Linked DNA regions of Homo sapiens: region 2 is linked to region 1. Evidence: fine-mapped expression QTL. A gene starts in region 1. The other region holds a variant in brackets. All regions are shown on one strand. Distances are from middle to middle.

Region 1 (15,258 bases):
GCCCTCAACAGGAGTTCTGGTTATCTCTAGCTGTGTAACAAATCACCCCAGACCTAGTGGTGTGAAACAACCTCACTCTATCATCCTTTCTCGCAGTTCTTAGCACTGACTGGGCTCAGCTGGGCGGTTCTCACTCAGGGCTCTCGGGTGGCTGCAGTCTGATGGTAGTTGGGTCTGGAGTCCTCTCAAGGCCTCCTCACTCATGTGTCTGGCAGCTGAGACCTCGGCCGGGCAGTCGGCTGGAACACAGGCTGTGTCCTCTCCATGTGGCCTGGGCTTCCTCATGGTGTGGGAGCTGGGTATCAAGAACTAGAGCCCAGGAGCAAGACCCGGGCAGTAGCTGTGTTGCTTTCATGACCTACTGCCGGGAGACACATGGCCTTACTTCTGCCACATGCTGCTGGTTAGAAGTGAGTCACAGAGGCCAGCCCATATTCAAGGGAAGAGGAATAAGACTCCACCTCTTAATGCCAGGGGTGGAAAAGAAATTGCATGTTTTAAAATCACTGCACCAGGGAAGATTGGAAGCACGGCCCCTTCAGAGGATGAGCCCTGACTCTAATGGGGACAGTTTAGAAGCTCAAGTGACAATTGGCATGGCCGAAGACCTCGGCATCTGTGGCACACTAATTTTTAAAAATTTTTAATTTGAGTCCTTTTTTGTTCCCTTGAGACAAGGTCTCATTCTGTCATCCAGGATGTAGTACAGTGGTGTAAACACAGCTCACTGCAGCCTCCATCTCATGGGCTCAAGCGACCCTCCCACCTCAGCCTCCCAAGTAGCTGGGACTAGAGGCGTGAACCACCCCCAACTAAGTTTTTCATTTTTTTGTAGAGATGAGGCCTTGCTGTGTTGCCCAGGCTGGTCTTGAATTCCTGGTCTCAAGTAATCCTCCCGCCTCAGCATTCCACAGTGCTGGGATTACAGGTGTGAACCACCCATGTCTAGCCATAGTTGAGTCTTAATAGTAGCTGCTCCATGAAGAAGTGTGAGTGAATTCATGAGTAAGGGAGAGTGACCAGGGCCTGGACAGAGTCCAGCTCTCAAACTTGGACTTTGCCTGGTCCCCTCAGCCTTCTGTGTCTGGACTCTGCCCATTCAGGGTCTAGGATGGAGACCTGTCTTGCTTTTTCCAGAATTTGACCCTGTCCTCTGTCCCAGGCTTGGGGTCCTACTATTGGAAACCCTATATGGATGACCACTGCCTGCCTACTGGCCACCAGTAAAGACTTCATGAGTAAGGGAGAGTGACAGGTCTGTACCACCATGCCTGCCTAATTTAAAAAAATTTTTAATTTGTGTAGAGATAGGGTCTCACTATGTTGCCCAGGCTGGTCTCAAACCTCTGGGCTCAAGCGATCCTCCTGCCTCAGCCTCGCAAAGTGCTGAGATTAATTTGGGATCCATCTGGTTACTTGTTGATTCCTCTGGTGTCTACTAAGATCCTTATTTTCATCTGGCTCTGGTCCACTGACGCAGTCCCTATTGTCATTTCCTTGTCCAGCCACATGGCCTCCAGGTCTTCAGGCTCCTGGGTCACTCTGTGCCTTCTTGGGCCTCCAGGAAATCTGTTCATGGCTGCTGGGAGCCCTACCTGTCTGGACACACCAGGCAACCAGGTTGCATTCCCCACCAGGGAAGGGCCTGGCTCTGGATTCTTGCTCCTTTCTTCGACTCTACTCAGAAACACGGCTCAGGATGCCTCTGCTTTTGGATTCCTGGAGTTCATCTGGGGTTTCTCACATCCCCTGATGGGTCTTACTCCCTTGCTTCCCCTCCACTCCCTTCTTCCTCCAACCATGAGGGTCTCTTGCAGGTTGGGGGTGAATGAAGGTCGCATCTGAAAGGGAAGGCTGGCTGAGTGATCATGTATATTTTCTAAACCAACTGGCAAGTATCCTAACTTTTTTTTTTTTGAAACCTTAAAGCCAAGTATTGACATCTTTGTCCTTATTTCTGAAGTCTGCTTGCCCCAAAGCATGGAAGGAAAGGGCTGGGAGAAATAAAGAAACACAAGTTACTCTTCCCAACTGTGCCAGTGGAGCCTTTAAAGTGCAGAGTTTTAAGCCAGGTATACCACCAGATCGTTGCCTAGTTTTCCTTATACTTCCTTGCATTTGCTTCTGTGCTTAGAAAACTTTGACCACTTTGAAACCAGTAACCATATGTCAGTATTCTCTTCCGGCCTTTATGGTTTCATGTTACATTTTACTCACCGATATGCCAATAAATAACTCTGGAGGCTGAGGCAGTTGGATAACCTGAGTTCAGGAGTTCAAGACCAGCCTGGCCAACATGGCAAAACCTCATCTCTATTAAAAATACAAAAATTAGCCAGGTGTGGTGGCACACACCTGTAATCCAGCTACTCGGGAGGCTGAGCTCTGAGAATCACTTGAACCCCGGAGGTGGAGTTTGCAGTGAGCCAAGATAGCGCCACTGAACTCCAGTCTGGGTGACAGAGCGAGGCCCTGTCTCCAAAAAATAAAAAATAAGAAAAAAAAATAAACCCAACAAAAAACCCCCAAAAAACAAAACTCTGAGGTTGCACGCTGCACTTTCTGTTCCCCCAAGCAGCCTCAACTTAGGGGGTCTAAATCGCAGAGTCTCTGAACCAGAAGGAGCCAGACAGGTCACCTGGCCCCACCACTTAGCCCAAGCAGCCATCTTCTGTGGCATCCCTGCTTGGTATCTCTCGCACAGCTTCAGCCATGAGGAGCTTCTTACTTCAAAGTATCATTCTGCAATATTGCTGACTGGTAGGAAGCTTTCTGTCTAAATGAACCCAAATCTGGCTCCTGCTCATCCTGGTCAGGCCTATGAAGCCCCACTGTGGCCTCTGCCCCAGTGCAGCCCTCAACTCTCTAGAGATGGCATTGTGTCCACCCCACCACACTTCTACTGTGACCAGCTTTAGTTAGATCTTCTCCGAACACCCTTGATTCGCAGGGTCCCCTGCTCCTTGATTCTCTGCTGAATGGGCTGGGCCTGTCCCCATGGAGCTGAAGCTTCCGCTGTGATCCCGAGATATGCCTGGACTCACCCAGCCCCAGGGCCTGTGATACGGACCCTCTGTCCTAGGAACATAGGCTGCTAGTTGGTCAACTGTTTGAGCCTTTCTGCTCATCTACAATCTGAGATCTTTGTCACATAAATTGAGGCCTCTCTCAGCCTGACCTGCTGATCTTTTGTACTAAAATTCAACAGTAGCAAAGATAGCATTAGAGGCAGGAGCCAAGTTCTGGGATTAAGCAGAGCAAGGCCAAATACAGGCTGTTCCACTACTCACTTAACACAAGGGAAGACCCAGGTAACCTTGGATGGCTTATGACTTCTGCCCACTTTGGAGGCCCTATTTATAAAAAGTAGTTAATACTAGTACTTGTTCTCAAGGGCCATGTGGGGATTAAGAAATAATGTTATAAATCCTTACCATGTGCAGTGTATTAAGTGCAGCAAAAGGTAGCTATTCTTATTACCATAGTGCTTATCTTCTTCTTCTTCTTCTTTTTTTTTTTTTGAGACAGAGTCTCGCTCTGTCACCCAGGCTGGAGTGCAGTAGCTCGATCTCAGCTCACTGCAACCTCTGCCTCCTGGGTTCAAGCAATTCTTCCTGCCTCAGCCTCCCGAGTAGCTGGGATTACAGGCACCCACCATGACGCCCAGTTACTTTTTTTTTTTTTTTGAGACAGAGTCTCGCTCTGTCGCCCAGGCTGCAGTGCAGTGGCGTGATCTTGGCTCACTGCAACCTCCACCTCCCGGGTTCAAGCGATTCTCTTGCCTCAGCCTCCCGAGTAGCTGGGATTACAGGCATGCACCACCATGCCCGGCTAATTTTGTATTTTTAGTAGAGATGGGGTTTCTTCATGTTGGTCAGGCTGGTCTCGAACTCCCGACCTCAGGTGATCTGCCCGCCAAGGCCTCCCAAAGTGCTGGGATTACAGGCATGAGCCACTGCGCCCGGCCTAATTTTTGTATTTTTTAGTAGAGAGGGGGTTTCACCATGGTGCTTATCTTCATTTGAAGAAAAGACAAATACTTGTCATCAAGGGTGGACCATACTGATCAGAAGGTGGACAATATGGATCACAAGGTAAGCATTGTTGACCAGAAGGAGATTTATTCTAATGGAGCAAGGAAAGGTATCAATGTGAGTTAGTCAGTGGAGGTTAAGAGGGTCAAGTCAGTAGATTCATGAAAATTGCACAGACCAAAACAACAGACCAAAAAGGGAAACTGCAGAATTGGAGGCTGCTTGCTTCCTTGCACCCACAAGGCAGAGAGCCCAGAGCTCAGGTGAAGTCTGACTGAGCAGCATTTTAGGCTTGGCAAAGTCTTGGGCCCCACTCCTAGACAACTGGCAGTGGGATCCTCTCCTGAGGATAATGATGCATTGAGAAAAGCCACTGCAAATCAGTAAACAGTAAATAAAGGTGGCAATGGGGCATGCACCAAGGACGAATCTGGACTGGACTTGGCAACCTTGCGGGTCCTGCTGACCAGGTACTTTTCTATTGACTCTGGGCAGGGACTGTGTAAATGAAGTCAGTGTGTGTTTCTATGTTACCCAGCTGTACTGTTGGGTGTCGCCCTGCAGGGCTGAGCCAATGGTAGATTCTCTAGGGTGAGAAGACCCAGTCAGTGGGAGAGAGTGCAGATATGGATTCAGCCAGGCCTGGGTTGAAATCCAGCTCAGCCATCTGGTGTCCATCAGGTGGGGACAACAGACCCTCCCTTGCAGAGTTATCATGAGGACTACATAGGATCATAGATCTCAATCACTAAGCACAGTGTCAGGCTAGCTGGAAGAAAACGGCTGCGTGGAGGGGATGATGTCTGGCACAAGCCAGCTCAGAGGCACCACTCAGAGCCCACCTGCCCCTGGAGACACAGAGCCAGGTGAGTCAGGAAGAATTCCACTCTCCACTTGGCCCTAGTGTGACCTTGGGCACATCATTAATCTCTCTTGGCCTCCATTCCTTTATTTGTAAGACAGGGACAACAAGCTCCACTTTGCAGGGTCACCCTGAGGCTCAGAATGACATCTACAAAGTGCGGAGCCCAGCACGGAGGTATTAAGTGAGGCCCCGTCCCCTTCCCAGAGGCCAACAGGATGCCATGGCCAGACCCTCAGGCCCTCCCGCTGAGGACTCTCTCCCAGCTCCTCCACTCTCCCAAGCTTCAATCAGTCTCCCTCAGAGGCATGAGACAGAAATAACCAGCCCATTCCACGTCTTTACAAAGACAAGGAAGTCCTGTCTCTTGGACCAGTTCTCCCTGACCATGCCCGTGAGGTCCTTGCCAAGAGCTGGTGACCAAGCTTGCTGAGACAGCAGATCCAGGACTGGCTGTGCATGGAGCAATGGGATCTTCCAGGAGTCCTGGCTGGGGTGGGGTACTATGGGTATGAGTTATCCACTGCACATGGCAAATGACCCAACACTTAGTGGCTTCAAACAACAAACATGGATTATCTTGCAGATACTCCCAGAAGGCAAGCTCTGCTGAGTTGTGAGTTGCAGGGGGCTGTGGCCAGGCAGGTTGTGTGAGAGCCCAGCAGCTGAGGGTGAGCCACACCCTACTGAGCTCCACCCTACCACACTGGCTCCGCTCTCAGTGGCCCGCAGTGATCCAGATCACACGAGTAAAAGACCAGCTGGACTCCAGAGGAGAGCTTCGCCCCATCTTCCCCTTGTGGGTCTCTCTCTGATCACTGTGCCCACCACCTCCCTGGGCCTTAGTGGAACCTCCCTTCTCTGCCTCTGCCTCCCCATCATGGTCTGGTTCTTAGAAGCCAGCAGAGAGAGGATGATGAATGTACTGACTTTGCAAAGGCCACGGGGGACACTCCATCCCCAGAGAGTCCCACAGCAACCCAGTAGAAGGGTCTGGTGGCTTTCTGAGTCGCGGGGAACCTCTCTCTCAGTTTCCCTTCCCATGACAGATGCTATCCTGGACCCCAAACCCCTCAAGCATAACCAGACAGATGAAGTCCATGGCCTCATCCTACCTAAGGACCATTGTCTAGGCTGGCAGCACAGGTTGTATGACCCAGTGACTGGCACTGGTAATGATCTCAGCCTTCATGATATTTAATATTATAGAAACCCCACCTCATGCCCACACCGGGGCTACCTTCACCCCCAGCCCCTCCTGGAGGGTCTCTCCAGAACAACTGTAACTTTGTACCCCACGACAACCACAGCGTTCACTCCTGCCACACACAGGGCTACCTGGGAGAGGTTTGTTCAGCAGTTCCAGCATCTCAGGACACCATAACCTCCTGTCCCTGTCTTTGTCCTTCTGAATCCCCAGGGTGAAGCTCAGGGCTCAGAACACAGTAGGTGCTCTGAAAACATGTCTGCTGAGTGAACTTTGCAGAAAGGGCCCTGGGGAGAGTGAAGAGAGGGTCTGACCACAGTCCTGGTACTGCCCAGCTGTATGGCCTCGGGCCACTCCCCATCCTTCTCTGAGCTTCAGTCCTCTCACCTGTACAGTGGAAATCAGAGCTTACAAACTATCAGCCCAGAGTCCTCATCTAGTTTGGATACGGTGTTTACAGTTCATTCGGTGTTTAATTTTATTTTGAAATTCATTTCAAAAATTTGAAAACTAGATTTCTATAAAACTTAAAGTCTTCAGCTTTTATTGAAAGATGAGAAAACCTGGGTGGCCTGTGTGGACCCATAGTCCCATATACAATAATTGGCTGGCCTGGGCAGCAGCTACCTCTTTACCTGGGACATCCATTAGCTATCTGGATACAGTGCCACCTCCCCTCACTCCCTACATACTTACCAGCTTGCACCACTCATGTGTATCACCTGCCTGGCCCCCGCAGGCATCTGAGTTTGCAACCCCTGAATGAGATTCTGAGCTTAGCACAAACTGATTGTTCTTTGGCTTTGTGAGGCCTAGAGGTGGTGTTACAGGATCCCTAGGTGACAAAACCCATCAGCACCCTGGATAAAAAACCATGTGAGCTGAGTGGAGAGAAACACTGCTGTTTCTGAGGATAACACAGTCTATAAATAGCCTCAGAGCCAGGTGAGTGCTAACACCTGCCTGATGTCACCTGGGCCCGGAGCCCTCAAGGGCTGGGCATGTGTTCAGCTCATGGCTTAGCCTATAGACTATCCTTCTTCCTGATACCACTGAGAACAGAACAGGAAGGGATGACATCATAGCTAAGCCTTTGGGGAAGGTAGGCTTTTCTCTGGCTTAGGAGGTAGTGATGACGTTTGATTTTCCAAAGAGAGTGGAAGGAGTAACATGAATGAAAGAAGCTGGTTCCCAGTCCAGAGTCCTCAGCATGGAGTCTTTGCACTATTCATGGCTCCCCAGTGCTATCCAACAATGTCAGACCTCAGCCAGGCCTTCAGAGCCCTCTGTGATTGGGTCCCCACAGGCCTTTCAGCTCATGCTCACTATTAAAACCATCTCCCTAGTCCCTGAGCTCCATAGCCCCCTGGCCAACTCCACCGTTTCTATCTTACTGTGTTGTCTGCCCAGGCTTATCTCTCTTGCCTCCCCACCCTGTCCCAAGGACCAGCTTCGTGGTGAGAGTGAGAAGGGTTTGACATGCAATAACCCTGATTGTGAAGTCAGACAGACTGGTCCCAGTTCCAACAGCCTGCCCTTGGGCAATTCACTCCCCAGCCCCTGGGGCCTGGCTTCCCCATCTGCAAAACAGAGCTGTCTCTCAGGCAGAGTTCACAGCTGGGAAAGGGTTCTGAGAACTGAAGTGGTCAAGTGAATGAAGGCAGCACTCCCCTGGGGTGGGGATGCTCATGCTTCATCAGGATGGGGCATAAACTGAGTCCCCCCAGGAGCAGGCTTGAGAAACAACAGGGTACGCTGAGCTACCTGCTGTGGCTGAAGGTCCTGTGAGCTCAGGGCCTGGAACTGGCCGCAGGGAAGCCTGGGGCCTTAAGGAAGCTTCATGACAAGGCACATGGCGTGATTCCTCCACTCTCAAATCCACAGGATGCACTGGTAGAGGAAGGTCTGGGACATGTGCTGAGGGCTCAAGTGGGCTCCCCACTCAGGCCTGCTCACCTCAGGGCACAATCATAAGAAAGGAGGGGCTGCTCCCCAGGGCAGAGTGAGGCCCCATTCTGGGCTGGGACCTGGAATGCATCCCACCTGGGCTTCACTGGGTGCCTAGGCCCCTCCTAGGCCAGGAATCGGAGAAGGGGGCTATGAACTTCCAGAAGCCAAGCTAGCCAAACTTCCAGAGGCCAAGCTAGCATTCTTATGAAGCTAGGGCACTGCTCTGACCTCATGAATTTGCTTGGCTGGCATTTTGCTGCCTGACCTGTTCCCATGAGCCCATTCAGGATCTGGGGCAGGTCAGTCCAGAGCTGGTCCCTACTCCTGCCCACCTGCCTCCAAGGCTCAGCCCCACCCCTTTCTCTGACCCCTCAGGCCTCTAACTGAGACCGCAGCTCTCTGAATCCCAAACTGTGAGAAAGACAGTCCAGACTCTGTCCATCACAGATGCCCACAGGCACAGTACTTAGTTGACAAATCCATGTCTCTCTCGTTCATTTTATCCTAAGAACAGACACGAGAAAAAAGCAGGATGAGGAGCATGATCGCACCCTTACCCTCCAGATGGGAAACTGAGGCCCAGAGAGGCCTGGAGCACTGGTGCAAGCTGGTAGCAATACTCCAGGGCTCCCTAGCCCTAGCCAGTGCCTTCCTGTGTCCAGGCCTCAGCTTCCCCTGGGGACAGTACAAGTGTTGGGCCAGATGCTCTCTCAGGTCCCTGCGTGGCATCCATTTATTGCAGACCTCCCACCACCTTGCAGTGAGGGTGGCTCTGGCTGCTGGGAAGCCCACTTTCAGCACGTGGGGTTTAAATGCTCCTGCTGTGGGTCTCCCCACTGAGTCCCCTCCCAGGGTGCATGCTGATGGGAGGGGGCAGCTGGCAGTCTGCCCCGGGGCTGTCAGTGTGGGTCCTAGGAGGAGGGATCAGACCCAGTCCTGGGGAGGGCTGGGGGCCTGAAAGGAGCATGATGAGCCCAGGCTGCGTTTTCAGTCTTGCTAGAAGCAGGTCTGGTCCCCAGAAACAACTAGAGACAGGCCCAGGCCGGGACAAGCAGGCTAGGGGGCATCATGGGAGGTGTCTCAGCTTATCTCCTCCCTCTTGCGCCTCTAGCTCACTAATCCCGCCTCTCATCTCACCTTTCTCTAACCCTCTCAGACTGCAGGACCTAGGGCAGCAGGGAAGCTTATTTGGCCTGAGCCTTACCTGCAAAGGGCTCAAAGGTAGACTTTTGCTATTATATTCAAATTGCAACGTATAGATGCTCATATTTTGGAATTAATTACGTTTTAGCAGTTTTTCTTTTTTTAAAAAAATCTGCTGGTACCTTAATAAACATGGAACCAGCAACCTTTTGCCAGGTGTCTGTTCTCCGGGTCTCTGGGCCTGGAGGCGGGAGTGTTTCAAAGCACTTCACGCTCCGCGGCCCCACCGGCTGGCTGCGCTGCCCGCTGCGGCCGGCAGGGGTAGTCCACGGACAGGCCTGGAGGAGGCGGGACGGGGGCAGGGCCGGGAACCTGGGCAAGCCAATAAAGGCTGCGGCGCGCGGCTGCGCGGGACTCGGCCTTCTGGGCGCGCGCGACGTCAGTTTGAGTTCTGTGTTCTCCCCGCCCGTGTCCCGCCCGACCCGCGCCCGCGATGCTGGCGCTGCGCTGCGGCTCCCGCTGGCTCGGCCTGCTCTCCGTCCCGCGCTCCGTGCCGCTGCGCCTCCCCGCGGCCCGCGCCTGCAGCAAGGGCTCCGGCGACCCGTCCTCTTCCTCCTCCTCCGGGAACCCGCTCGTGTACCTGGACGTGGACGCCAACGGGAAGCCGCTCGGCCGCGTGGTGCTGGAGGTGAGACCGCTCGCAGGGCCGGCCTGGGCGCGGGACACGGGCCCGGGGAGAGCCCTGGGCCCCGGGCGGCGCGGTGCCGGGCGCGCTGGGTGACCTTGGGCCTCCCCATGCCGAGCTCTGGGCCTCAGTTTCCCCATTTCTGAGAATGGGCGTCAGAATGATTTCTTCCGGCCTCCCTCGGAGCACTGGAGCGGGGGAGACGGGAGGGAGGGCACGTGTGGAGGAGAAAGCTCAAGGTCAGATCGCAGAGAGGGAGGGCTCAGCACCTCTGGGCCGGCCCGGGCACGAGGGAGGGGCTCCAGGAGCCTTCTGGGGCTGAGCCTAGATCCGGAGCTCCGAGGTGGGTGTCGGGGGTCTTGGGGTGAGCGTCGTGGCCCAGCGGGTGCTCACGTGGCGGCCCTTGCACAACACGGAGCGCTTCCTGGCTCCGGCCCCGCCCCTGCGGTCGGGCTCACACTGGGGGTGCTGGGAAATGGAGCGAGAGGTGGTTTCCAGCAGTAGTGCGGGCCCAGTAGGCCTCAGGCCCCGGCCACCTGGTGGACCCCAGAATGCCCCTCCTGCGAGTCGGGACACACTCAGAGACAGTGTGCCCGGCGCCTCAACCCCTGCCACTGTCCTTGGGGGCCACACTGAGCACCTCCCCTAACTCTGTTTTTGGGTCTTTTCTAAAGCAAAGTAAGAAACAGTCACCAGGGTAGCTTTAGAGGGAAAGCCCTAGTGGAGCCTTCAGGTCGGCCACACATTGACAGCAGGGGTCTGTTTGTGTTGACTGGCCCGTATCCCAGGGAGCCCTTAGTATTTCTTCTTCATTCTCAGTTTCTTCTGGAAAATAGGGACACCCTTCCTGCTTCCATTTGGTTCCAGGGTGGGTCTTGCAGCTTCGAGGGTAGAGGCTGGCTGGGATGGGGCTTCAGCCTTCCCTCCCCACACCCTCATGCCTCTCCCTGGGCCTCAGTTTCCCAACCCCGAATGGAGGAGCTGGTCTGGCTTCTACCTTAGACACACTCTCTTGTCCCTGAATTTCTGATGCTTTGGGCCCAGCTGTGGGAGCACTGCCAGCTGTGTCCACAGAAGTAGGCCAAGATAGCATTGTCATCTCTTCTGACAGATTAGGAAACCAAGGCCACCTCCTCCAGCCTTGGGTTCAGGAAACGGCTCCCAGAAATGATAGAGCTGCCTCCCATGGGGGTTGGCAATAATGGGAATGGAATGTCCACGTGCTTCTTCCTTAGCCTCCTTGGCCACTGTGGGGGTGGGTGGGTGCTGAGAGACACCCACCTTCACCTGCCTCTCCAATGACCATCCTCTTTTGTCCTTCTTCTCCCCCAACAGCTGAAGGCAGATGTCGTCCCAAAGACAGCTGGTAAGACAGGGCCTGGGGCCTTCTGAGATGGGTCTAGAGGGAAGGGGGCCAGGCAGGGCAAGGTGGGTGGCGTGATGAGAAGAGTCGGGGCTCAGAGACCCCTGACAGATGGGAGCTCCATGTGTGGCTCAGCCATTGGGTGCTCTGGGGCAGCCCTGCCATCCCTCTCTGGGCCTCAACGTTGGCTCTGCCCTCCTCTCTCATAGTAGCTGGGAGCCTCAGAGCCAGTGGAAGGCACATGTAAATTTCCCGGAGACTTCCCCACTCCTGGTGCCCAGTGAGGCAGGGTGATGGGCACACAGCCCTTGAGTCCGTGCCCTGCTGGCCAGCACAGCCATGAGCCTGTACTCTTGTCACAGTGCTCAGGTACTGAGGACAGGGAAGGGGAGTGACTTGTCCAGTTACATAGCGAGTTGGGCAGAGCAGACCCAAGAGGTGGGCCAGAGTCTTTATCCCCCTGTTCACTGCTGGGGATGTAGCAGGGATTTTGGCTGGAACGGGTATGACCCTGGAATTGGGGCCTGGCCCTGTTGACCTGTGTTTCTCTTCGACCCTCAGAGAACTTCAGAGCCCTGTGCACTGGTGAGAAGGGCTTCGGCTACAAAGGCTCCACCTTCCACAGGGTGATCCCTTCCTTCATGTGCCAGGTAATGTAGTTTCCTCTTCTGTAAGGGGGGATGAGAGCAGGAGCTGCCTTGTGGGTGTGTGAAGATGCCTGGTATGAGGAAGGTGCTGAGCAGAGCAGCTGCAGTTGCTCTGTCAGCCAGGCTGCCCTCCCTGCATTAGCCCTGTATCCAGGCTTCACTGCACATGGAAGCCCAGCCCCAACCCGCTGCCACTCCAGGTCAGTGGCAGGCCCTGCCCGGGGGACTGGGAGGTGGAGTCTATCAAGAGAGAGCTGGGTTGGGAGATGGATGTGCTGGGGGTGGCCTTGAAGACTTTGAAGAGCCAGCATATTCCAGTGGTCTCTGACCTTGTCCCCTGTGTGCCCCTGAGCACTGGTGTGGGAGATAAGAGAGGGAGAGAGAGAAGTGGAGGAGGCGGAGGAGGAAGACAGGTCCAGGGCAGGAACACACACGCCAGGACTTGGGGCTTCCCTTCCCAGAGAAAGGCATTATTCTCGGTGAAATGAATGTTTTTCGGTCATGTGTCATGCTCAGTTTTCACAAGCATTGGTATTGCTGTGTCAGAGGTTTGGGGGTAGGTGTTGTAGCAGGAGCTTCCTGTGGGTCAGGACCCAGGTGGTGTTGGGGCTGGTCTTCTATTAGCACAGACCTTCAAGATCAGGGATTGGGTGTCCTGGGCAGGCAGAGCCTGGAGGCAGGGGCATGGCTGTCATGACCTCTTTGAAGACCTTCCTGCCTGGAATTCTCTCCCCATTCCCTCCACCCTGACCCAGTGGCCGTCATCGTACCGTGGTAAGTGGCAGCGGGTTGGGACTGGACGTCTATGTGCGGCGAAGCCTGGATACGGGGTGAACACAGGGACGGCAGGCCTGGCCCAGCCCTAAGGCTGATGGTAAAGTAGGAGCTGAGGTGGAAGTCCTGAGCCAGGGTGGGAACTCCAGCGCGGGAGGGCTCCCTGGCACAAGGCGGTGGCACCGGGAGTCCAGACCAGAGTCCTGAGTCATCCGTTGGGAGGGATATCAATTAGGGAGCACCTAATTGACACCTGTGGATGCTTCAGCTGGGCTGGTCAGTTCCCCTCTCTTACCCACGGATCCCATCTCAGGAAAACAGCAGCCAGCCATGGCCTGGGCTGGGCAGCGCTAGGCATAGGGGCTGCTACCAGGCTCTTCTGGCCATGGGTGCCCCATGCAGGTTTGGCCACGGCTGCCTGGGCCTTAGCTGAGGCCTGAGGAAAGATGTCAGCCTTGGGCAGACTCTGTCCTGGGTCTGCAAGGGTTGGGAAAGCTGCTGGGCTGGGTAAGGGGCAGTGCGCGGACAGTGAGGGGACTCGGCCTGGGGAGCTGGTCTGGACCAGCTGCTGGTACTCCCACAGACTAGACTCGGGAACTGGGGGGCCTCTGGCCTCTTCCTTGTTGCCCTCCAGGAGGAGTGGGTTAAATTCTGGGTCACTAAGTATCATCTCAGAATGGCCTTTAGGTCTTTTGAAGATTACTTAAAAATTTGCTCAGACAAAAAGTAAGTCATTTGGAAACAAAGGTAGTTACGGTGACAAAAGATATTTAAGTTTTGTCTTTTTTTTTTTTGCTTATTATTCTTATTATTAGCTCTTATTTTATTGGATGTTTATTGACCCCTTTACCTGAGGGGCGCCAACTGGGTGGGCTTGGGTGGGCTGAGGCTGCTGCCAGCGCCAGGGCCGTGGCCCCCGCCTGCTCCATGGTAGCCACTCAGAAGGTGCTTTGTGCTCACAGGCGGGCGACTTCACCAACCACAATGGCACAGGCGGGAAGTCCATCTACGGAAGCCGCTTTCCTGACGAGAACTTTACACTGAAGCACGTGGGGCCAGGTGAGTGGGGGCCTCCTCTAGGGTGAGTGTCCCCACAGCTCTGACCTGGCCTGGAAGCCCCAGCAGGCCCTGAGAGGCCACATGCAGTCACCGTCCAGTATCTGATGAGTCTCCTTCCTCCCTGCGACACTGTAGGCTGTCTCAGCATTTCTGGCTTGTTGAGTTTCCCTAGAGTTTTCTCATCTCTCAGTTTAAAAAGCAGGGTTTCCTTTGGGAACTTTGTGGAAGAACCTTTAAGCAGAATGGAGGCCCTGGCCACCTCCCTGTTTGTCCTCTGAGTTTCGGGTTGGAAATTCTAGGACACTTAGAATTGTTGCAGAATGGTCCTTAGGTCCTTTGAGGATTATTTAAAATCTTGCTTAGATAAAAAGCAAATGGTTTGGAAGCCAGAGTGGTTATTGTGGCAGCATCGTGTCACCTATAAGACCCAAGGTAGAATGTGGAGATGTCTGGAGGTCAGGTCCTGGGGTCCTGCCCCAGGTCCCGCCCCAGCTCTACCACTGAGAGCTTCCACAAGGCCCTGTCCTCTCAGGCCACCCCACTGAGAACTAGCAGGCAGCAAAGGCAGGCATACCCTGGGGGGCTGGTATCGGGCCCTGGTTCTCCTCTTCTGGGTCCCAGGATCTGCAGACTCGAATGTCCCTGGTGTGGTTTGCACCGTCTGCCCTTTCAAATGCCCTCCCAGGCAGGTGCCTCCAGGGGCAGCGTGGCTCAGCCCTGCTGGTTTTTGCAGGTGTCCTGTCCATGGCTAATGCTGGTCCTAACACCAACGGCTCCCAGTTCTTCATCTGCACCATAAAGACAGACTGGTGAGTTCCCTGCCCCAGGCCCTCTGGGAATGCGGGCAGCCTTGCAGCTGGAGGAGGATTCGTGCACTTTTAGGGGCAGGCAGTTTACAGCCAGGCCTTCTGCTCTGGGACAGTGGCCCTCTCCCAGGCTGTGTGTTTGTATGAGAAAGAGAAAGTTAGTGGAAGGATCAAGGGAGAATTGGGGTTGTTCCTGCAACTCTGTCATGGTTCGGGTTCCCATTGTTGCTGTCACCTGGAATTTTCTGAGTGTGTTCTGCTCACACGCACACACGAAAGGGTTTCTCTACCAGATACATTTGGGAAATGTTGCAAAACATATTATGAGGCCTCAGGAGGGACTGAGTAGAAGCCCACTTGTGTGGTTTTAACCTGGAGTTTCCCAGGCTTGTCTTGACCATGGGCTGAGCCTTGGCAATGCTGCAGCAGACATTTGGATATCAGCAAATTTCCAAATGAAGCCTCTGTATTATCATAAACCTGCAGATAGCCACAGGCCTGTAAGGGCCCTGTTTTCAATGCCCATGGATTTTAGGGATGTCTCTTTCCTGGTACATTTTCCTCTAAGGGATAAATTTCTCTGGCCAGAGTCCCAAATGTCCTAGCCCTGGGGCACCTGGGGATGAACTGGCTGGGAGCTGACTTGGTAAAGCCCATTTCCGAGGATTTTAGGGAGACCTAGGTGGGGCAGACACTAGAAGTGTCCAGCCTCCAAGCCCAAGAGATGT
Region 2 (15,258 bases), 29 kb before region 1:
ACTGGCCAGAGCGCTCTATCCAGATGCTGCTGCCCCCACAGACTGCCCATACTTGGTGGCGGGTTGACAGGTGTGTCAGCAGTGCTCCAACAGCACCTGCCCCTCCATGCCGGAGACATTCCAGCCAGATACGAAGCTGAGGGGCACAGCTGCCTCTGAAGATCCAGGGACTGTCTGTCTTGAGCTGGGCTGCACAGCTGGAGTGTGGAGCCCCTCCCTGCTCTCCCAGGGTGGGCACTGAGGGCATCTACAGGAGTGGGAGCCCTAAGCTGGCCTCTCACTGACCATGGGTGGTGGCCCATTCCTCCAGCCTCTTGTATGTGTCTCATAAACGGGTCTCCCAAGGTCTCCAGCAGCACCGTTGCGAGGTCGTCTCATTCTTGGGGCTTGGACTGGAAGGGCACTGTGCTCCCTAAGGCCGCATGGGGTTGGGGCCCTACACCCTGAGAAGGGGACACCTGGACCGTGGGCAGAGCCCGACCCATAGCAAGGCCTGGGAAACAGTTTTAGGAGAAACAGGAAGAGGAAGGAAGTTGGGGATGGGCAAAGACCGAGGATGGTGTGGCTGCAAATTCTAAATGCACACAGGAAGAACATGTCAGTGTGTTCTGTGTGGCTGCCCCAGGATGGGGCAGGGTGAGGGGATGAAAAGACCAAGGAAGCATGTGCCAGGCTGCTGTTCCAGTGGAGCACCTGGAGCATCCGTGAGCCCCTCTCACTGGCAGAGCGAAAGTGGGGCTGGGGGCTGTCAGGGATGCTTGCAGTGGGATCAGGGCTTGGTCTGCGAGGATTCCCCGGCCTTTCACTTTGAAGGAGGATCTGCTTGGGACAGCAAACAGGCTAGCAGGGGAATGTTCACATCTCACCCACCCACCCACAGACAGCCCAGTTTTCAGTGCACGTGCCCACAGGAGGGTGCGAGTCCTCTAGTTATCTGTTAGAGAGGCACCGCCAGCCTCACCCTCAGCAAGACACCCACCATTGGTGAACCGTCACTCAGTCTCCTTGTCCTTGGAGTCCCAGAGGTGCCTGCCTCCCTCACAACCCTGTGTTTTTGAGGGCTGGTGCCGACCAAGTGGGATGTCTAGGAAAAGGGTCTGGCAGGGTGTGAAGATGCCCCTGGCTGGCCAGGTGCCCACCCAGCCCTGCTCCTCTGACAGCCAAATTCCACCCGCGCTGCAGGGCTTGTGCCAAGGCCCCAGCTGCTCCACACTTCGGACTGGCAGAAGGCGCCTTCGTACCCAGCATCACCCCTGCCCAGGGCCCACTTGGGAGGTGCAGACCCAGTCCTGAGCCGCACGCCCGCCCAATGCTGTCTGTCTGTGTCTGCTCTCTGCCGCCCAGCTTGGGATCTGCACCACGCTGAGGCAGCCGCCCTCCTGCCTCCCGCTCCCCGGAACATGCCCATTCTGCTTCTCCATCCTGCCCTCGCTGTTGTTCGTTGTCTGGGCGGGGAGGTGGAGGGGCCTGGGGGAGCCCAGGCCCAGCTCCCCGTGTCTGTGCTTGTGTCGAAGCCCTCCCCACCTCCTGGGGCTCCACGTGGCCCGAGAGGTCCCCGCCGTCCCCCTGCAGCCTCCCTGATGGGCGGTTTTGGGGGAGAAATTTTTCTTTGTTTCTCTGCCCAGAAACAACGTTCAGCCTCGTACCGGGTGGCCACGTTTCGGGGGTTGTGACTTCCCTGGTTGTGTTGGGTTTCATTTTCTCCAGGCATCATCGCCGTGCCTCCTCACCTCACCTCTCTTCTCTCCCGCTCTCTCCTCCTCCACAGATGCCACACGCTGGCAGCTCTGACCAGCCCCACCCCTCCATACAACAAGGTTTGCACGTACCACACCCCAGCAGCCAGTCAGGGCCTCCATTACATCACAGTGGGGCTCCTCCTCCTCCTCCTTCCCAGCCTCCCCGGCAGCCGCCACAGGCCGCTCCCAGCAGCCATCCACACAGCGACCTGACCTTTAACCCCTCCTCAGCCTTAGAGGGTCAGGCCGGAGCGCAGGGAGCGTCCGACATGCCGGAGCCTTCGCTGGATGTAAGTTGGGGTCGCCACTCGCCTTGGCCTGGGGCTAGGCCTGGCGCCGGGACCTGCCCGAGAGAAGGGGTGGGTGTGAGGGCTCGAGGCCCCGAAGGGAGGAGGTGGGTGGGCGGTGGGAGGGCTTCACCCAGACCTGGCTCCAGACCAGGAAGCCCCATGATGGGGAAGTGTCACCACTGAGGGTCCCCACCCTGCTGGCTCCTGTCCCCCCAGTCCCTTTGGCCATAGCCCTGAACCCCAGCCCTGACCCACCTTCTGACCCAAGCCCTGCGGGGTCCCTTGCGCAGCACAGGAGGGTCCCTGCCCTCCCCCGATGGTGAGCTTGCGGTTTCTGTGTCTGCCTCTCTGGCCCGGGCAGGGAGGGCTGGAGGGAGAGGCCGTCTGTCTGCCTCGCTGGTGTGTGTCTGTCTCCAGTTTTCTTGTCCGCGTGTTGTCCATGCCCTGCTTCTGCTTGCTCCATCGCTCACTCCAAGAGGCCCCCATGTGGGTGACAGAAGGTGGGGGCAGAGGGGGCAGCCTTGGGTCACAGCCAGGGGCAGCAGGCCATCATGGGCAGCAGAGGTGCCAGGGCTCCTACCCTGAGGTCTGGAAGATGGTGGGGGTCACCCTGGATGATGGGGCTGGGCTGCTGGATGGGGCTGGCGGGATGGGACTGAGCACCGGCCCCGCCCATGCCTACACAGAGCTGGTGCCAGACTCCGGGAGGAGGCTTGTCCTCGGCCCCTCCTGTTCTTCACCCCCAGCCCTGCTCTGTCAGCCTCTGCCCTGCAGCATCAGAGGAGCTCTGTGCTAGCTAGGACTCACTCACTGTGCAGCCATCTCAGGTCCTTGCCCAGTGTTCCCCCTCAAACCAGGCCAGTGGGGCTGCTTTTAGATGCATGAGGCTCCCCATGTGACAGACTCCAAGGATATCTCAGTAGAGGGTAGAGACAGTCTGCATCCCCTCCGGGGCCACAGGGAAGGATGGCTGCCAGCCAGCCACAGGCTCACCAAGGAGTGGCGAGCCCTTGAGAAGAGGGATGTTGGGGGGTTGGGGGCGGTGCAGGAACCACTCGCCTTCCCGCCTTCCCACCAGCCCACCTCCTTGTGCTTACACGTGAAGCATGTGATTTCAGCTGGGAGGCCCAAGTGACCTGCCATGGGGCCTTCCCAGGTTAGGGCTGAAGTCCATGCCTGAAAAGGGTCAGCCCTGCTCAGGCCTCAGCTGGTGGGCTGCGGGTCCCAATCCTGAGGCTTGAAATGAGCATGGGGGTGCCCCACACTCGGTGCAGTGGCCGGGGTATGTGTGGGGATACCTGGCAGGCCCAAGCCCAAGGCTGTTCTCTACCCCTTTTTTTGGCTAGGGTCCTGAGAGGCAGGTGGAGGGGGACGGGCCAGGGCGCCCCTGCATTCCTCACCCGGGGCCTGCCTCTCAGGCACACCTCATCTGAACTTCATTACTCCTTCTTTTCCAGCTCCTTCCCGAACTCACAAATCCTGACGAGCTCCTGTCTTATCTGGACCCCCCCGACCTGCCGAGCAATAGTAACGATGACCTCCTGTCTCTATTTGAGAACAACTGAGGGCCACCCGGTCGGGGCCATCCCTCCACACTCTGCATCCTACCCCACCTACCCAACACACTTTTCCACCTGGGAGCCTGTGCCCTCAGACCGCCCCGCACCAGAGCCACGGGCTGTGGGGCGGGGAGCCCTCCCCCGCTGCAGCCCTCTCAGAACAGAGGGGTAGGGAGGGTGCACCAGTGCACCAGGAAGGCTGTGTGGGTCTGGAGCCCACGTCCCACCTCCACACCCTTGGCTTGGGCCCATGCCCAGCGCAGGCCTGAAGACCACCCTCCCGAGAGGAACCAGCCCGGTAAGAGGGCACACGCTGATGCGGCTTCCCGGTCCCTCCGCGTGTGCCGATTCCAGATGACCTTCCAGTGTCCCCAAGGTTCTTCCATCTTCTAGACTGTAACCCTGCCTCCCTGCTTCCTGGTCCAGAGCCTCCCTCCAGTGACTGTGGAGCCTGAGAAGGCCCCCGGGCCCCAGCATGGGCCCCGAGCCTTGGAGGAGCACTGGCAGTTGGTGGCAGTGAGACCAGCCCACCCACCACCACCCACCACAGAAAAGCACAAACCTCTGGGAAAGACAACGTCTCTCGGGGGCCAGGGGTCATCGGTTTGACCCCTGACCTATAAGCCAAGATACCCCATAAACACACTCAGAAAGCAGAGAAAAAGGACAAGAGTCTGTGTTTGAGAGGGGGTCTGCCATTCCTGCTTGGGGACTGGTGGGGAAGAGGGCCAGGACATCTTCTGAGCCAGGACGTCCCTGAGGCTCCACCTCCAAGCTCAGACAGGGCCCAGGCTTGGGGAACAGAGAGAGCAGGTGTACACCCAACCAAAGTGATTGTGCCCTTGGTTGGGGGGCGCGGGCATATAACCTGTCAGAAGCAAACAGGAGCGGCAACTTCTAACTTTGCTCCAAGCCACTCTCTTTTTAAACAGCAACAATTTAAAGCTATGAAGTCACCTGGAGAAAAGGAACGTTGCTCTTGGACAGCAAGCAAACCATTTCTCTCCGTCTGTTCTGTTTTTCTCCTAGTCCCTCTCCTGCCACCTCTCCAAGACTTCCGTGGGACACCCACTTCCCTCTGTCCTAGTTCTCTTTGTCCAATCAGATGGCAAGGGCAGTGCGTGGAAAGGCCGGGGAGGTGCAGAAACCAGAGCCCAGGGCAATGGTGTCTGTCCAGCCCCTCCCTCTGTCCCTGTGCTCCAAGCTGCCCCCGGCTGCAGCCCAGGCCATGGACATGTGCACCAGTATGTACCTGCAGGCATGGGGGGGAGGGGGGCGTGTTTCTGGGCCTGCCCCAGACACTGCCCTTGGCTGCCAGCCTACCCTGCCTGCACTCCTCCACCATCACAATCTCACCCAAACTCCTGCTCACTCAAGCAAAAGCAGCCTCTGGCCTTCCCTCCACCGCTTTGCTCCATCTGGCTTACCACTCTCCAGGGCCTCCTGGGGAGCCTGTCCTGTGTTCACTTTGTTTCAGGCTGGTCTGTGCCCCGTGAGCCACATGGCCTAGGGTGATGCCAGGTTGTCCCGTCACTGGGGTCCCATCTGTAAATTCTTTGCGCCCTTCCCGGCTGCTGCCTGGGGCCCTTTCCTGCTCTCCCGTCCGCTGTGGGTGGTCCCCAGC[T/A]CTCCTCTGTGGGTTTTACCGGAAAGGTGGCCCCAGCTGTTGACTTCCAGTCACTGTCCCAGACGGCACAAGGTTTTCTGTAGGAAAGCTGCCATTGCCCCGGCCCCTTTTCTTCCTTTGTCCCGTTGTCGAGGTTTTTTCAAATAGCGTGTTGTTCAGTATGCAAATCAATTATTTTAAGAATCGCTTTTGTAAATATCTTTGTGAATATTTTAGTATCGTCTTTGATAATATTCAACATTTTCATGACCTGGTTATAGCCTTTGCTGGTGTTTTTAAAATACCTGGACTCAATGACAAAGACCGAGTCTTCTTTTTTTTTAAACAAAAACAAAAAAAGCAACCAGGGCTATTTGTACAGTTGAAGGGGTGAACAGAATGGGCGGCTGTGCTGGGAGTTGGAAGACCGGGCAGCCCGCTATTTAGAGCCATCCCTCAGTCAGCTGGCAGGGACAAGCCAACGCCAGGTAGCATGTGGCCACCCTTGCCCAGTGTCTGTGGCCTGGCAAGTGGCCACGCCCTGTGTCAGACCATCTGGGAATTAAGCTCCAGACAGACTTACAGATGCCTTCCTTAGGAGTTCTTGCTTCTTGCGTTGATACTTTGCCCCAGAAAGGCCTGGGATTCATTCTGGTTCTTATCAGGGTGTGTCCACACTCTGCTCACAGGTGGATCCACGGCTTTCCAGTGCGGAGAGTCGAGATGCTCCCTGCAGCCCAGGCCCCGGGCACCTCCTGCAACCATCTCTGGGCTCAGCACCTGAGGCGGGTTTCCTGGGTCCCCTCTCCAGCAAGCCTCCACCAGCAAGCTCGGCCCAGAGCTTCCCTTCCGGCTGGCTCTGAACCGTGCGTGGTGCCTACAGCCTGCAGTCTGGAGACAAGCTCTTCCGGAGTGCTCTGGGAGCCAGGCCAGGGTGTGAGGGAGGTGCAGAGGCATCCGGGGCGGGAGCAAGCCCCAGGTTGTGACAGGTGCAGGTAGACAACGCCCATAAACAGAGATGGTCCTGAACTCTGGAGAGATCCTTCCCTGATCCTTTCGGACGACTACTTGGAGCCATAAGTAACCTCAGCAAAAACGAGGCCTCTGCAAGCCACTTTTCCATGCCAAGCATCCACCCGGCCCACAGGCATGTTTCTGCCGCCACTCCGCAAGATGGACAGGGAGCCAGCAGGCAGGCGGGAAGGGCCAAGTACAGGCAATCACCCCCATCTTCTTGGTTTGAAGCTTTATCCATGTATCATGTTCCGTGTAGCCATTTTATTTTTTAAGAAACTGCTAATACTTTCTCCCTAATGGAAGCCCTGATCCCCCAGAGAGCTACAGGTCTGCTCCCGACGGGCCTCGGGCCTGACCCGTCCACACAGGGCCGTGTCAACAGCAGCGACTCAAGGGACGTGTGTACATATGTAAATGAGAAATAGAGACGTGTCAACAGATGCATTCATTTCTCTTGGAATGTGTATTGTTTTTATTTTGCGAAACAAAACAAAACAAAAAAAAAAGCTTGGAACTCCATCACGTGGAAAAACTAGATCCTGTTGGTTATAGCATTTGTGAGTTCTCCACGTCTGTCTCTCTCGCTCATGTAATATACTCTGACCCTGAGTGGAAAGGGGTTTTTGTTCTGTTTTTATTTTACCTACATGTACTATTTAGCTTCAGTGTACTAGTCCTGCCACCTGTGTATTTTTAGGGTGCTATGGAAATAATGAAAAGAAACGGGGATTTCAGAAGAAAATTGTAACCAAATTCATACTTTGTATAATTTTTGATATCATGATCACAGGTGATTCACACGTACACACATAAACACACCCACCAGTGCAGCCTGAAGTAACTCCCACAGAAACCATCATCGTCTTTGTACATCGTATGTACAATGCAATCATTTCATACTTTAAACTGGTCAAAAAACTAATTGTGATTTCTAGTCTTGCAAAGCTGTATGTAGTTAGATGATGTGACAACCTCTAATATTTATCTAATAAATATGTATTCAGATGAAACCTGTATATTAGGTGTTCATGTGGTTATTTTGTATTTAAAGATCAAATTATTTGACTATTGCTAGACATTTCTATACTCTGTTGTAACACTGAGGTATCTCATTTGCCCATGTTAATTTTTTTCTAAATAAATTGACAAAAACAAAGGTTTGGCGAATTAGCTATTTTGTGGATGTTAAGGAGTGGTTTGGGTGTTTTTGCTTTTGTTTTAAACCACACCCCCCGCCCTGTTACCCTCTGCACACACAAAAAAGAAAGGCAGGTGGTTTGGGTGTTGAATTGGAAGAACCCCTGTCCATGGGGGTCCCTGGAACCAGTCCCTGGTGGGGCAAGTGCAGTGTGTGGCCGGATGGTTGGGGGAGTTGGGGTGGCTGAATAGGGCCAGGTGGCTGCAGGGTGCTAGGGGCCCCTGTGGCATGTGACTCAGAGTGTGCAACAGTGTCCCATCTTTGATGGTCCCTTGTGGATTATGCTGGGTTTAAGTAGCAGGAAGCTATTCATATTAAGCCACAGAGGGTGCTGTTCAGAGCACACAGGAGTGTGGCTTCAATGGAGAGTGAGCATTCACTGCACCCATGGCTCCCTGCTGGCATCTCAGCATCCCTGGCCTCCACCTCTCGGTACACCTGCCCCTCCCCTCCTAGGGAAGCTTGGGTTTTCCCTCCTCCGTGAGCATGCTTTACATGGGGTACTGTCTCACGATAGCCCCTGCCCAGGCCATGGTTCTAACCATCCTTCCAGCCTCGGCACCAACACAAACTGACAACACTTGATGTGTCTCCGATTGAAGTTTTAGGAACATGCATCTGACACAGCCCCGCAGCCAGTCCCTGCCCTCCCTCCACGCAGCCTCACCTTAGGGGGAAAGCAAATGTGGCTGTCATGGCCTTTCCTCCACAGGGACTGTCCACAGAGGGAAGAAGGGCCGGGCCGGCACCCCAGAGATCTCCACTCAGATGTATCCGGGTGTCAGGAGAGTGAGGGGCATGTGTGTGCAGGAGCCGGCGGTGTGGGGGAGGCTGCAGGGTGCTGCCTGTAGGGGGCTGGGTGCCTAGAAGCCCCCTGCTCCTGGGGCCTCTCCGAGGTGGCTGGAGTTTCTCCTTTTGGAGGGAGGTGGAAGGTGAGGAGGAGAAAAGATTTACCTTAAATAATGGAACACCCACCGGCCACTGCTCAGCTGCAGGCACTGCCTTCTGCCAGCATCACCAGGACAGGCTGACTCTCTCTGAACAGACACCCCTCCGAGAGGAGGGTGATTAGTTAGCTTGAGGGAGAACTTCCCGTAGGAGACATGCCCCCCTCCCTGTGCCTTAGAGCAGTGTGGTGGGGCTGGACCAGCACTTTAATAAAACAAATGAGAATACAGTAGAAAATATCAGGAGTGTGCCCTACAAAGTAAAGGGTAGCATTCTATCAAGAAACGTGTGTGTGTGTGTGTGTGTGTGTGTGTGTGTGTGTGTGTGTGTCTGCTGAGTCATGATGTTAATTCTTATTTGTGGGTTGTGGTTGAAAACAAAAAGTTTGAATGCCATTGACTTAAAGGCAGGAAGTGGGCAGGGGAGCAGGGAGGGAGGAAGGGCAGTGTGCTCCCCCAACTTCATGATAATAAGCAAACCTTCCTGGCATTTCAGCTGGAGACTCTGAACCTGGGATACAGGCCTGTGGCTGCCCCACAAGGCTGTATGGAGACTGGCCGGCCCCATCTCAGCTAACTCCTCCCCAGACGGGTGACTTCCTTCTGTGAGCCTAACCCCTGGACCAGAAACATCCACCTAAAAAGCCCAGTGGGGGCCCTGGCTTGGGACAGTTCAGAGTTCAGCCTCCCAGCATGTGGGGCCACACACTGTGGATCATCTTACGTCTCTTCTTCCTCTAGCCCACTGCAAAAAGTCTCCACCCTGAATCCACTGACTGTCTTCATGTAAGGCCATGGGATGCTATTGGGGAAATTCATTCAGCCCCACAGGTCGATGTCAGGATACACTGGGGTCTCCAGCCTCCCTGAATGCTAAGGGCACTCAATGTTTAATGGCCCCCCATTTCCCTTCTCCTCTGCTCCAGCCTCCTGCTAACCACGCCCACCTCGCTCTAAGCAGGCTACCCTACCCTCACCCAGCTCCCCACTGTCCCTGCTGCTACCCACAGACCTATCTCCATCCACCCTGGCCATATCTTTTTCCACCCAGGCCCAGAGGATGTGGTGTCCCTTCCCCAGTTGGGGCTACCCCTCCCCCAGCCCCTGACACCATCACCCCTTTCTCTTCTCCAAGGAGTCTCATTCTATCAGCCCGTTAACCCTCCCCATACCTCTGCCTCCCGCCTCCCCGGGTTTAGTGGCCCAGGCTCTGGCATTGCAAGGTTCAGCTTGGTCTGGGCTCCACCCCTTGATGGCCAGTCTCTGCTCCTTCCCATGCAGGCTTCTCAGCCACAAAACTGCCAGTGCCCACTCTCTTTCTCTGTCACCCTTCATATGCCTGGTTCATGCCCCACCAGTTCTCTGACACTTCTCCTGCAAGCTCACCAATGGCCTCTTCGTTGCTGATCCACGCTGCTTTCTGAGACTGGACCTCACAGCTGCACTTGACAGTTGCCATTTCTTCCTTGAAGCTCTCTTCTCTTGGTGCTATGGTTTGAATGCTTGTCCCCCCCACCACAACTCATGGTGAAACTTAATCCCCGGTGTAACAGTACTAAGAGGCAGGCCCTTGGGTCATAAGGGCTCTGCCTTCATGAATGGATTGATGGATTAATGAGTTGGCAGATTCATGGGTTATCATGGGAGTAGGTCTCTTATAAAAGCCAACTTGGCACGCGCTTGCCCTCCTCGCCACATGATGCCTTCTGCCATACTACAATGCATCATGAGGCCCTCACCAGATGCAGCCACCCAATCTTGAACTTCCCAGCCTCCAGAAGCATGAGCTAAATAAACTGCTTTTCTTTATAAATTACTCAGTCTCGAGTATTCTGTTAGAGCAACAGAAAAGAGATGAAGACACTTGAATCCATGACAACTTCCTCTTTCATCTGTTTAGTTTTCCTGGCATCCCTCTGTGCCTTCCTTGTCTTCTCCGCAGGTTCCTATGGTAACTAGGTACTTGTGGTGCTTCATCAGGATCTTCTTCACCGACTGGCCCACCCATCCTGCCGCTGCTACGGGTGTTGGCCGCCAACAGCCCAGAACGTGCCCCTTTATCAGAGAATTTCCCTCAGCTCACAGAAACCTCCATGCCTGACAGGTTACCTGCCCCCTATCCCCACACATGCACCCCTGCCAGGCAGCGCACAGCCAAAATTGACTGCCACAAGGAATAAAAGGCCTCTTGGCTGGGGCATGATCAGTGCTCTCAAATCCTCCCTGTGGGTCAGGTCAGGGCTAGACTTTACCTGAGGCCACATGCTAACTCCACTCTCTCCCCTTCCTTGTTCTGCCTGCCTCCCTCATAGGTTTCTCCCAAGATCACTCCCTCAATAAATCATGGAATCAGCATGCCTGTCCTATGCTCTGCTCCTATCCAGATCGAAGACAGTGGGTGCTGGGAATGGGTCTGGGAGGCAGGCTCTGAGGATAGGATGCTGGAGAGGTACCACTGACCAGATGACAATGAGGACCCACCACTAGTGGCAGGAATTGGGTAGCAGTGTGCACCTGTGGTGAACTGGGATGGGACACAGGTGAAGGAGCTACACAGCCACAGCAATGTATCCGGCATCTGAGAGATATGGGCAAAGAATAACTATTAAGACTATGGACTTGCTAAATGTGGCTATTACTAAATGTCACCAATGCATTGAAGAAAGGAAATTACAGTTACAAATATCTTAACTGGCAATTTAGAGTGTGCGCATCAGAGGAAACTTCTTGGCAGGAAGCATTGGAAAGCGCTTACCTTCTGCAGCCAGAGGGCAGATGGAGTGACAATCAGGCAGAGGACTCATTGGAAAAGCAGCAGAACTTGAGTAAAGGCTGAATTCTCCATCAAGGGAGGTCTCCTATATCCAAATCAGGCCCCTGGTAGGGAAGGAGACACCAAGACTTGGGATGAGGACTGTCATACCAATGCCTCTCACAAAAAATGTTTATTATGACCAGCTGACAGAGAAGGGAAATTCTTGAGTTTGGGTCACAGATGGGTTGACTTGGCCTGTGGGTGTAAGCCAAAAATGGACTGAGCCTGCACTACAGTGCCATCCAAGGGTGGCCCTGAAAGATGTTGGTGAGAGAAAATCCCTCCAATAGGCAGAGATTTTGCCAAAGCACCTGGTCATCTCACGGCAAGAGAAGAGACCTGAAATAAGGATATACTCGTATTCATGGGCAGTGGTGAATGGCTTAGCTCTTTATTGGTCAGGGGCCTGGGAAAAACAAGTCTGGACTATCAGAGACAAAAAGGACTGGGAAAGAGGCCTGTGGATCTCTGAGAGTGGCAAAAAGTACGAAGATAACGTATCACATTTCAATACTCACCAAAGAGCATCCATTGCAGAAGCAACACCAAACAACCAAGTGGGCAGGATGACTCGGCCAGTGGACGTCAGCCAGTCTCTGTCCTCACTCGTCATCCTCCAACCAGTCCTTGCACCATATGGGCTCATGAACAGAGTGCCATGGTGACAATGACGAAGTTATATATAACCCTAACAGCCTTGGCTTCCTCTCCCCAAGGCTGATCTAGCTACTGTCACTGCTGAATGCCCAACCTGTCATCAACAGAGACCCAAGCTGAGCCCGTGATACAATAACATTCCAGGATGAAACCAACTAGCCACTTGGTGACAAGTTGATTATGTAGGACCCCTTCCCTCATGGGAAGGGCAGTGATTTGCCCAGACAGGATGGATGCATATTCTAGGTATGAATTCACTTCTCCTTCCAATGGAGCCTCAGGCCATTGGCACTATGGCTCACCAAGAGTCTGATTCACTGACATAGGCCCTCAGTTGACATCATTGCAGACTAAGAGAGCTGAGTCACCATGATTGCTGCATGGCAGTGGGCACACGACTGTGAAATCCACTGGTCCTTACACATTTCACAACATCTAGAATCTGCCAGTCTATAGGGGATAGAGTTGCCTCTTAAAGACACAGCTGAGGTACCAACTGGGAGGCAATACCTCATCAGTGTGAAGGATATGGGGTGCTATCCTTCAGGTTGTCCTATACATCCTAAATCAATGACCCCCATTCCCAACAATAGGCAGATAAAATAAACTTAATGTGAGAAGTGACTGGATCTGAGCAGTGCAAGGGGTGGGCTGTAGTAGACGCTGTGGCACCCTGCCCAAATCCCTTCTGCAGGGCAAGGCACCCCTCCCCTGGCTGCCGTGAGTGTTGGCTCTTCACAGCTTACAGCCCACAGCCCCCTTTCTCTGGAGAATTGCCCTGAGGTGACCAGAGCTGTCTCACCTGGGAAGTTCCACCCTCTGGATGTGGCCCACAAAAAATGGCTAATCTAGAGTACAAAGTGCCTGCCCTCTTGCCTTAAGGATCTGGCTTATGCTCCAAAGTCTTTGCTCCATGATCCAGCCAAGGGCAGCCTTTCTCCAAGCCCCTCTCATTGTTCATCTCTTCCCCCTCCTTACTCTGCTTCTCTCACTCTTACAGATTGTTTCTGGATAGCAGTACCTTTAGTGAATAAATCAACTTCACCTGGCTGCAAAAAAAGTATTTCTCTGCTCAACAAAACAGAACCAAAAGCTGCTGCTGAGTGCTAATGATGCAAGGGCACAAGTATGGGCAGGTAGCTGAGAGAAGCAGAGAGTGTGACAACTAGAGAGCACTGATTGTGACCAAGGGGCATCTGCTTCTCTGGGTGTTTGTTGCCAGGTGAGAATGCAGACCCAGCTGTTGCTAGACTTCTGATTTTCCAAGAGAATCTAGAAATGCAGGTTTTTAAAAAAAGTTGCAAATAAGCAAACAAAAATGTGTACAGACACCTATGGCCTAAATAAAGTCCAGGTGTGAGCTGCATCTGCCTCAGTGGTCCCCAGTCCCTGACCTCTGACCCAGGGCCAAATGCTGGTTTAAGTGGCGGGACTGAAATGCAGCCCAGCCCCGTGAGACTCTGGAGCTTAACCACCAAGTTCTATACCTCTAGATTAGCTGGAGAGACCAGTCCCTGCCTAAAGCAGAAATACCCATGGTCTGCAGATCCCAAGACCGGACCCATCTGCCACCATCCCCAGCCCTGAACATGCTGTCTTTGGCCACCATAACACACTACCCTGTTCTCATGCCCATATCTTTGCCAATGTCTGCCCCTCCTCCTGGAATGCCACTCTAGACTTTTGGGAATGCCTGTGCACCCTTATCCTCCTTCCCTGGAAACTGCCATCTGCCGCTGCAGAAGGGCAGACATGTTTGACCCACATGACCAAACCCCCCTTGACCCCAGCCCATTAGACCAGGAGGGACACGTGTCGCGAAGGACTAGCTGGCCAGTGACCAATCATGTTACCCCTGCCCCAGTCAAGAATCTGACCTGAGGCACAAAGATTGCAGGTGCCATTGTGGCCCCGGCTGGATCTAAGGCCTGACCTGCCTCTTCCCCTGCTCTCAGTGGATCTCTGTTACTAGGCTCAGTCTTTGCCTTTGACTTTTTCCCTCCCCTCCAGGCTGCATGATTTCCCTTTTTCTTTTTATGACTTTGCTTATATCAAAAGTTAAGTCTTATGTCAACCTTGTCATGAGAACAAAAGAAGCTTTCTAGCTTTTAACTAAAAGGATGTCAGTTAACAACGGAAATATATGTCAAACAGAAACAGGGTCTCAGCTTTGTGGTCTTGGGAACCCTCTCTTCCTATTACTACTGCTTATTATCCAGGACCTGGCGTCTTCCCTTTGTCACCCAGGGCCCGGTGTCTTCCCCTCACCACCCGGCACCTAGTAGTCTTCCCTGGAGCTAGTGTCTTCCCTGAGAGGCAAGACAGACCAGCCCAGCCAGAGTGCTGCTGGTAACATCACAGAGACGGCAGGCCCCATCTTTGGCAGCTCCCCAGACTCTCTGTGGTTTGGTTTTGTAGCCTGACACTCGAGGTGGCTCACAACTTCCTTCTGGAGTGAACATTTAACATCCTGCCTGCCCGTCACCCCTCCCTTCTTCAGGGAACCGTACTCGCTTTCTTCTGAGCATCACTCTGCGCCTCTTACTGCCCCTCTCTGATATGTGAGCCAGGCCATGCTGCTGTAATAAACACCAAACTATCAGTGGCTCAAGACAATGCCCATGTCACAGCCCAATGTGGGTGCCCCTGGTTGGACGCTGTCTATGTGGTCATTCACTAACCCAGGTCCTTCTCATCTGGTAGCTCTGCTCTCCTTAAAATTTTCTGCATTCAGCTGGCAGATGAGGAAAACCAAAGGAGTATCCCATAGAGAGTAAGTTTATGGGCCAGGCCCACATTTATTGGCTAGAGTTCAATCTCATGACTGTGATTGACCTACAATTTCAGTTAGCTACACCTAACTACAAAGGTAGCAGGGAGGGTCTTCAGAGAGAAGGCAAAGATCCAGGGAAAGGCACTTCAGCTATGTGCCTAGACAGGAGACAGAGTCCTAGGGAAGGATTCTGTTTGTTCCAGCTGGGTTCTGTGTCCATTCCCTGGCCTGGTCATTTTGAACTGGAAGGCAGAGTTGTTATCAGCTCCCATGGATTCAAATGAACATTTAGACAGTGTATCAGTTAGGTTTTGCGGCAGAACAAACAGCTATTTATTATTAATGGCCTAAAACAACCATTCATTTTTGCCTCTGAGACTGTGGGTTGAGTGAGAAGTTCTGTCGACTGGGCCAGGCTCATATGATCTCAGTTGGGCTCACTCACGTGTCTGAGGCCAGCAGGCAGGCTAGTTTAGAATGGCCTCACTCGCATATTTGGTAGCTGGCTTGCAGTTAACTGGAGTGAGGCTCCCTGGGCTTGTTCAAATGGTCGCCTCAGGATTGTACAGCATCACTTCAGCCTCATTTCATTGGTCAAAACAAGTCCCAAGACGAGCCGAGATTCAAGGCCTGGGAAAACAGACTTCTCCTCTTGATAGG

What was found.
Region 2: its variant is fine-mapped to the expression of PPIF in whole blood (TOPMed, PIP above 0.99).

Annotation. Positions count from the first base shown.
Region 1 is chr10:79,337,860-79,353,117 of GRCh38, forward strand. PPIF (peptidylprolyl isomerase F) reads left to right here and starts at 9,610. Exons shown (of 6, transcript NM_005729.4): 1 at 9,610-9,884; 2 at 11,217-11,247; 3 at 11,806-11,894; 4 at 13,628-13,724; 5 at 14,458-14,533. The coding sequence starts at 9,690. RefSeq lists cis regulatory regions at 9,277-9,854, 9,354-10,395, 9,354-10,027, 9,354-9,905, 9,354-9,904 and 7 more, silencers at 9,384-9,793, 9,814-10,043 and enhancers at 11,358-11,858, 13,861-14,361.
Region 2 is chr10:79,309,156-79,324,413 of GRCh38, forward strand. ZMIZ1 (zinc finger MIZ-type containing 1) reads left to right here. Exons shown (of 25, transcript NM_020338.4): 24 at 1,769-2,029; 25 at 3,487-7,364. The coding sequence ends at 3,594. Among named protein-coding and RNA genes, the nearest start is that of PPIF, 31 kb to the right of the region's middle. RefSeq lists enhancers at 2,625-3,125, 3,883-4,382, 8,529-8,588, 9,178-9,753 and cis regulatory regions at 7,424-7,924, 7,450-7,950, 7,456-7,956, 8,139-8,639, 8,272-9,001 and 13 more. The variant T/A (reference allele first, on the strand shown) is at 5,213.